2 linked regions of the Homo sapiens genome follow. Changing the gene in region 1 together with any one later gene gives a genetic interaction. Each region holds a gene or a part of one and is shown on either strand. Other genes may lie near its edges. The genes, in order: PFKFB4 and MST1R.

Region 1 (3,807 bases):
ATGGATGTGGGCCAGAGCTACGTGGTGAACCGTGTGGCTGACCACATCCAGAGCCGCATCGTATATTACCTCATGAACATCCACGTGACCCCCCGCTCCATCTACCTCTGCCGGCACGGGGAGAGCGAGCTCAACCTCAAGGGCCGGATTGGCGGGGACCCAGGACTGTCCCCTCGGGGCAGGGAGGTCAGTGCATGTGTCCCTGCGTGCGCACACGGGCCTGCATTTGTACCCTGCGTGGCTGGGTATATGCATGTGTGAGTGCGCTGGGGCTAGGCTCCCATTCTTTTAATGTGCAGTCGAGGTGAATGACCTTCATTCAACCTAGAATCTTCCCATCATGTAGGGAAGGTCATCAAGCAACAGGCAAATGCCTGGATCTCTGGTTTCCATGTGAGCTGTCACTCACTGAGCCCCTTTTGTCAGAGGCATGCCACCCTTAGAGCGACCTGAGTCCATACAGTGTAGCAGATAGCTGTGCCACAGTCCAGGGGAGACCTCAGTGGTCACGTAGCACAGGGCACCTGGTTGTGGGGAGGCAGTGGCCCTGATGAGTCTCAGCTGTAACTGTGCTGCTGTGCTCAGGGTCTGGGAGGGTGCACAGGAACAGCACTTGTGTTCTTGTGTGTCAGCATGTGTGTCATCGACAAGTTAGTTCATGCTTTTTACCAAACCTGTAGTGAGTGTTCAAGGCGAGGGTGATCTCATGGACCCTGCGGCTATGGGATGCTTTAAGGGCAGCCCAAGACCTGTGGGTCTGAGTTTGCTTATGATGTATTTCAGTTTGCCAAGAGTCTAGCCCAGTTCATCAGTGACCAAAATATCAAGGATCTGAAGGTCTGGACAAGCCAGATGAAGAGGACAATCCAGACGGCTGAGGCACTGGGTGTGCCCTATGAACAGTGGAAGGTCCTCAACGAGATCGATGCGGTAGTTACCGTCCCTCCCTCCCTGTCTACCTCCCAGATACCGCAGGGCTGCTGCATCATATTGTAACAACAGTGACCATTGCTCCCCTTGGGCAAAGGAGAGGAGAGAGAAAGGATACAGGAACCTAGGGGCTGGGAGCAGAGAGGAAAAGGCAGCCTAACAGGATGGGACCTTGGGTGAGCCCTAGACCATTCTCAGGAGTGAGCCTGGGAGTTGACACCTCAACCTCACTCTCCTCCCTCCCTGTGGCCTCCTGCTAGGGTTCCTCATGGTCTAGCTCAACAAGAAATCAGCGGCCACGGGAGCTTGGTAGCTGCAGTCAGCCATAGCCAACCTCCCAGGGATCTGGAGACACAAATGAGGTGAACCAGCACGGCCTTTGTCTCTTTAAAGATGCTGTTCTCGCCAGGTGCGGTGGCTCACCCTTGTAATCCCAGCACTTTGGGAGGCTGAGGCGGGCGGATCACCTCAAGTCAGGAGTTTGAGTCCAGCCTGGCCAACATGGTGAAACCCCATCTCTACTGAAAATACAAAAATTAGCCAGGCATGGTGGTGGGTACCTGTAATCCCACGTACTCGGGAGGCTGAGGCAGGAGAATTGCTTGAACCCAGGAGACAGAGGTTGCAGTGGGCTGAGATTGTGCCACTGCACTCCAGCCTGGGCAACAGAGTGATGTTCTGTCTCAAAAAAAAAAAAATGCTCTTCTGCTGACTTCTGGGTTGCATTGTTTCTAAGAGAAGTCTGTTGTCATTCTCATCTTTGCTCTTCTGGATATAATGTTACCTCCTTTTTCTCTGACTGCCTTTAATATTTTCTTTTCTTCTTTTTTTTTTTTTTTTCAAGACAAGATCTTACTCTGTCACCCAAGCTGGAGTGCTGTGGTGCAATCATAGCTCACTGTAGCCTCAACTTCCTGGGCTCAAGCCATCCTCCCATCTCAACCTCCTGACTAGCTGGGACTACAGGCACTTGCCACCATGCCAGGCTAATCTTTTCTAATTTTTGTAGAGACGGAGTCTCATGATGTTGCCTAGGCTGGAATATTTTCTCTTTATTGCTGATTTTTAGCAATTTGATTATGATGTATCTCAGTATGGTTTTCTTTATGTTTATCATCCTTGGGGTTTATTGAGATTCTCGGATTTCTGGGTTTCTAAATATAAAATGTGAAGAATTGTTGGCCATCATTTCTTCAAAGGTATTTTCTGCCACCCCTTCTCCCATCCTGGACTCCCACTCTGTGTGTGTTAGACTGTTTGGTATCATCCCACAGGTCACTGAACTTCTGGTTTTTTAATTTCTTCTGTTCATTTCTTCTCTGTCTTTTTTTCCTTCCGAGCTTTAATTTAGATAGTTTCTACTGCTATGTCTTCAAATTCACTTATCTTTACTTCTGCATTTTTATTAAACCCATCCAGTGAACTTTTCATATCAGATGTGGTGTTTTGAAGCTCCAGGAATTTCATTTTGTTCCTTTTTTGAATCTTCCATTATTTCTTCATTATGCTTGGCTCTGCAGTCCAGGAAGTGCCTCTGGGCAGTAAGCTGCTGCCTCCTCCCCTCAGCTTGCTTCCCTTCTCTCAAGGATCACAGTCCTGCCTAGTCTCGTGTCTAAAAACAGTTGTTTGATTTGTCCCTTTATTTATTTATTTTTTTGAGACGGAGGTTTGCTCCTGTTGTCCAGGCTGGAGTGCAATGGCACGATCTCGGCTCACTGCCACCTTCGTCTCCCGGGTTCAAGCGATTCTTGTGCCTCAGCCTCCAGAGTAGCTGGGATTATAGGCACCCGCCACCACACCAACTAATTTTTGTATTTTTAGTAGAGACAGGGTTTCACCACGTTGGCCAGGCTGGTCTTGAATTCCTGACCTCAGGCAATCCACCCACCTCAACCTCCCAAAGTTCTAGGATTACAGGTGTCAGCCACAGCGCCCTGCCAATTTGTCCTTTTTTAATAATAGTTGTTTTTGTTGGGGCCAGAGCAAATCTGGTACCAGTTGCTCCATCATGGCTTGGTCTTTATTATGGGTGGTTCCCATTTCAATATGAAAAGCTTTTTCTGTGGATATATACTTTGACTAATTTGAATATTACCACCCCTGCTTTTGTTTTTCCATTTTTTTTTACTGTGGTAAAATATGCATAACATAAAATTTACCATCATAGCTGTTTTGAAGTGTACGTTTCAGGAGTATGAAGTACATTTACATTGTTATGCAACTCTCACCACCATGCATCTCCAGAACTCTTTTAATCTTGTAAAACAGAAACTCTGTACCCACTGAACAATAACTCAAGCCAGATGTGCTGGCTCACACCTATAGTCCCAGGTACTTGGGAGGCTGAGGTGGGAGGATTGCTTGAGCCCATGAGTTTGAGGCTGTGGTGTGCTATGATTTCATTCACGATTGGCCCTTGCACTCCAGCCTGGACAACATAGTGAGACCCCATCTCTAAAAAAATTTTAAAAAGAAAAACAATAACTCTATTTGCTACTCCCAGCCCCTGGCAACCACTTTCTGTCTTTATGACTTTGACTACTTTATATACCTCATATAAGTGAAATCATATAGTATTTGTCTTTTTGTAACTGGTTACTTTAGTTAGCATAATATCCTCAAGGTTCATCCATGTTGTAGCTTGTGCAAGAGTTTCCTTCCTGTTTATTTTTTAAGACAGCATCTCACTCTGTCACCCAGGCTACAGTGCAATGTGGAAATCACTGCAGCCTCAAACTCCTAGACTCAACGATTCTCTTGCCTCCCTAGTAGCTGGGACTAACAAGTGCACACCACCATGCCTAGATAATTTTTTTATTTTTTGTAGAGAAGGGAGGCTCACTATATTGCCCAGGTTGGTCTCAAACTCCTAGCCTC
Region 2 (4,513 bases), 1.4 Mb from region 1:
ACCACGCCCGGCTAATTTTTGTTTTTAGTGGAGATAGTTTCACCATGTTGGCCAGATCTGTCTGTTCACCATGTTGGTCTTGAACTCCTGACCTCAAGCGATCCACCCGCCTCGGCCTCCCAAAGTGCTGGGATTACAGGCGTGAGCCACCACGCCCGGTCACATATTTTATTTTAAAAACATTTTTAGCAGTTTTTTTGTTTTGTTGAGTTTTGTTATGTTGCCCAGGCTGGTCTTGAACTCCTAACCTCAAGCAATCCTCCTGCCTTGGCCCCTCAAAGGAGTGCTAGGATTACAGGCATGAGCCACGGTGCCCAGCCCAGAACTACATTCTCATTGAAGAGAATAAGATCCAGCAAGGCCTACAGAGCATGTTGGAAGTGTCCTGAGAGCCAAAGCCCATGATTCCTCCATATCAGGGGGGCACTGGGTAGAGCCAGGAAGGAAGGGGGAGTCCCCAAGGCCCATACTGTGGACCCCATTATACAGCTTCCATATACTGAGGCTGCAGAGGAGGTATGGGCCTCCACTTACGTGCCTCTCTGACTCTGAGGTCCAGTCAGCAAGGCCAGATCCCATCCTAAGACCCTTATGGCCCTGGGAGAGCAGGGCATAACACACCTTCCTCTGACACCATCTTGTCGCTGATAGCTCAGGAGAAGCACATGGAAGAATGGTCCCGGCCGGGCGCGGTGGCTTACGCCTGTAATCCCAACAGTTTGGGAGGCTGAGGCGGGCGGATCACCTGAGGTCAGGAGTTTGAGACCAGCCTGGCCAACACTGTGAATCCTGTCTCTACTAAAAATACAAAATTAGCCGGGTGTGGTGGTGCGCGCCTGTAATCCCAGCTATTCAGGAGGTTGAGACAGGAGGAGGTTGAGGCTGGAGAATCGCTTGAACCTGGGAGGCGGAGTTTGCAGTGAGCCGAGATCGCGCCACTGCAATCCAGCTTGGGCCACAGAGCAAGACTCCTTCTCAAAAAAAAAAAAGGACAGTCCTTTCCCACAAAGGGTGGCGCCCCATAACATCTCTTGTAAGTGCCCCACATCTCCCCTCTGGTCTTCCACACAATCCTGGTCTCTGTTCTCCACATGGTGGGCCCCCAGGCCACCTCTGGGCACCAGCCACTGAGGGTGTTGCTACTAAGTGCAAACTAGTTCCACCGCAAGCAAAGAGCCCAGTGTCCTGCCCCCCTTCTCGCTGCGAACCAGTCGGTAGTGGGGGGATGGGATGGGACGGCTCAGACTGGCTCACCTCTCTCCAGGCCACACCATGCACATCCACCCACAGGCCGCTGAGAAAAAGGCGCCAAGACGCCAGGTGAAGGTACAGGAGCCAGGCCTCCAAGGGCCGGAAGAGTCGGATGGGCGGAGGGCCTGGGCTAGGCCAAGCCTTCCTCGCGGCCCCGCCCCCACGGCCCGACTCCGCCCGCCCAGCCCGGCGCCCTCGGGTCGGCTGAGCGCTAAGCGCCAGTGTACAGCGGCGGCTGGGGCGGCAGGTGAGGCGGCTGGGGCGTTGCTGTCGTGCGTCCGCAGGCGTCAGGTGCTCAGACCCGAGGGCCGGGAAGGGATTTGGGTTTCACAGGAACCTGGGGCGGGGGTCCGCTATCTTGGGGCTGTCGGGACCGCTGCTTAAATTTGGCCCAGTCCAGACCTCGAGTCGGGCCCCCAGCCAGGCCCACGCCCAGGTCCAGGCCCAGGCCGGTAGGGATCCTCTAGGGTCCCAGCTCGCCTCGATGGAGCTCCTCCCGCCGCTGCCTCAGTCCTTCCTGTTGCTGCTGCTGTTGCCTGCCAAGCCCGCGGCGGGCGAGGACTGGCAGTGCCCGCGCACCCCCTACGCGGCCTCTCGCGACTTTGACGTGAAGTACGTGGTGCCCAGCTTCTCCGCCGGAGGCCTGGTACAGGCCATGGTGACCTACGAGGGCGACAGAAATGAGAGTGCTGTGTTTGTAGCCATACGCAATCGCCTGCATGTGCTTGGGCCTGACCTGAAGTCTGTCCAGAGCCTGGCCACGGGCCCTGCTGGAGACCCTGGCTGCCAGACGTGTGCAGCCTGTGGCCCAGGACCCCACGGCCCTCCCGGTGACACAGACACAAAGGTGCTGGTGCTGGATCCCGCGCTGCCTGCGCTGGTCAGTTGTGGCTCCAGCCTGCAGGGCCGCTGCTTCCTGCATGACCTAGAGCCCCAAGGGACAGCCGTGCATCTGGCAGCGCCAGCCTGCCTCTTCTCAGCCCACCATAACCGGCCCGATGACTGCCCCGACTGTGTGGCCAGCCCATTGGGCACCCGTGTAACTGTGGTTGAGCAAGGCCAGGCCTCCTATTTCTACGTGGCATCCTCACTGGACGCAGCCGTGGCTGCCAGCTTCAGCCCACGCTCAGTGTCTATCAGGCGTCTCAAGGCTGACGCCTCGGGATTCGCACCGGGCTTTGTGGCGTTGTCAGTGCTGCCCAAGCATCTTGTCTCCTACAGTATTGAATACGTGCACAGCTTCCACACGGGAGCCTTCGTATACTTCCTGACTGTACAGCCGGCCAGCGTGACAGATGATCCTAGTGCCCTGCACACACGCCTGGCACGGCTTAGCGCCACTGAGCCAGAGTTGGGTGACTATCGGGAGCTGGTCCTCGACTGCAGATTTGCTCCAAAACGCAGGCGCCGGGGGGCCCCAGAAGGCGGACAGCCCTACCCTGTGCTGCGGGTGGCCCACTCCGCTCCAGTGGGTGCCCAACTTGCCACTGAGCTGAGCATCGCCGAGGGCCAGGAAGTACTATTTGGGGTCTTTGTGACTGGCAAGGATGGTGGTCCTGGCGTGGGCCCCAACTCTGTCGTCTGTGCCTTCCCCATTGACCTGCTGGACACACTAATTGATGAGGGTGTGGAGCGCTGTTGTGAATCCCCAGTCCATCCAGGCCTCCGGCGAGGCCTCGACTTCTTCCAGTCGCCCAGTTTTTGCCCCAACCCGGTAAGCTGAAAGAAGGGGCCCTTACTTGTGAGCTGCATGCACATGGCTGAACACAGGCTGCTTCCCTTCCATCACTGAGGGGATCTGGGGGCGCGGTGGGGGGGCAGGCGGAAAGAAGCATTCTCTCTCACCCAGTTCCTAAGTGCTGGGGTGGTGTGAGAAACCAGCCAGACAAAGGCTACACTGGAGGCTTAGCTCCCAGGCTGGCCCTTGTGGCTGCCTCATCTTGCTCTTTCCCCTACCTGCCCATCATGGCCTCTGGTTTTTTAGGTAGTTTCCCTGGCTATGTGAGGATAGGGTTACATAACCGTGTCTCTGTTAGCATAGCTCCTGAATGCTGGGTAGAATGATGGGCATTCCCTCCTACTTGTCCACCACCCATATCCTCAGGGACACACGCAGAAAAATAGCACTCCCCCCTCCCCTCCCCCACCCCCGCCACCACCACCACCACCACGCACAAATACACAGGGAGATGCTCACAGATTCACAGACTCACAGCTGCTTGCCAACAGTTTCACTTTCCCTTGTTTTGCTCTGCTTTCCAAAGGGGGTGGGACGGGAGTTGTCAGAGAATCTCCCCTTCCTCCACACCCCCTCCCCCCACCCACCCCCATCCTTCTGCCAGCCACCACGTTCCAGGGAGCCTCCTGGGCCTTGGAAGTTGGGAGCTTGTTAGGGAGCCTGCATGTCCTGGGCTTCACTAACGTTTTTGCCATGATTGGGGGTGATTGGGGGAGTACCCAGAACTCATGGAATGGCAGCTTGGTTCTAGAAGGTTCTGGGAGCCTCACTCTAGTCTTGTGCAAGCAACTATAAACATCTGGGGATAAGTAAAGGCCTAGGAAGGGCTGGTTGGAATTGGTCCATCCCAGACTTTTTTTTTTAACTGTATTTGGAGCCCTACCCCAGGCAGGAAGTCTCAAAGCCTGTGCTGAACTGGGGGCTCCTTCCACAGACTCTATCTAGGTTCTCTCCAGCCATCGTGTAGGCAACAGCAGTAAGATTGGACCAAGGAATGGGACCCACAGCTACTGTTCTTAGATTCTCTAGCTATCATCCTGTGGCCCTGGGCCTGCTGTGACATTCTCGAAAGACTCCTTTCCGCTCCTATTGATGCCTCGGAGATGGGAGAACTTACACCCAATGTGAGGTTGGGGGTCTTTAGCCTCCCTCCCTCTGCTGAGTACATCTGGGTTGAGAGGCCCTAGGGTTGGGGACTCCTTGTCTGGGCCTGGGCAGGCCTGCCTGGCCCCTTCTCCTTCCCAATGGGGAGTCAGAACCTCTCCCCAGCTTGCCTAGTGGTCAGTGGGTCAGAAGACACCCAGCACGGCTGGGCAGTGCCAGGCTCCAGGAAGACTAATCTTGGTCCCTGCTCACAGGCTGGCCAGGCCCCCAGGAGGTGTGTGAATCACCCCGTGCAGTGTTTGCCCAGCAACTCTGGGCATGCAGCCACTAGGGCAGCACCCACATAGTGGTTGGCCTCAGGAGGCCTGAGGGACTCAGAGCTGGTGCCTGTCCTCCATGGGACATTGGACACTTACGTGT

What was found.
Region 2: changes in PFKFB4 (region 1) and MST1R together harm fitness less than expected from each alone (positive genetic interaction), as found in Homo sapiens cells (one large-scale study listed by BioGRID).

Annotation. Positions count from the first base shown.
Region 1 is NC_000003.12:48,532,635-48,536,441, reverse strand, and holds part of PFKFB4 (6-phosphofructo-2-kinase/fructose-2,6-bisphosphatase 4), read left to right. Parts: coding exon 1-186; intron 187-783; coding exon 784-930; intron 931-3,807. UniProt on the Homo sapiens protein: Synthesis and degradation of fructose 2,6-bisphosphate.
Region 2 is NC_000003.12:49,900,832-49,905,344, reverse strand, and holds the start of MST1R (macrophage-stimulating protein receptor isoform 1 preproprotein), read left to right. Parts: upstream 1-1,471; 5' UTR 1,472-1,735; coding exon 1,736-2,965; intron 2,966-4,513. UniProt on the Homo sapiens protein: Receptor tyrosine kinase that transduces signals from the extracellular matrix into the cytoplasm by binding to MST1 ligand. Regulates many physiological processes including cell survival, migration and differentiation.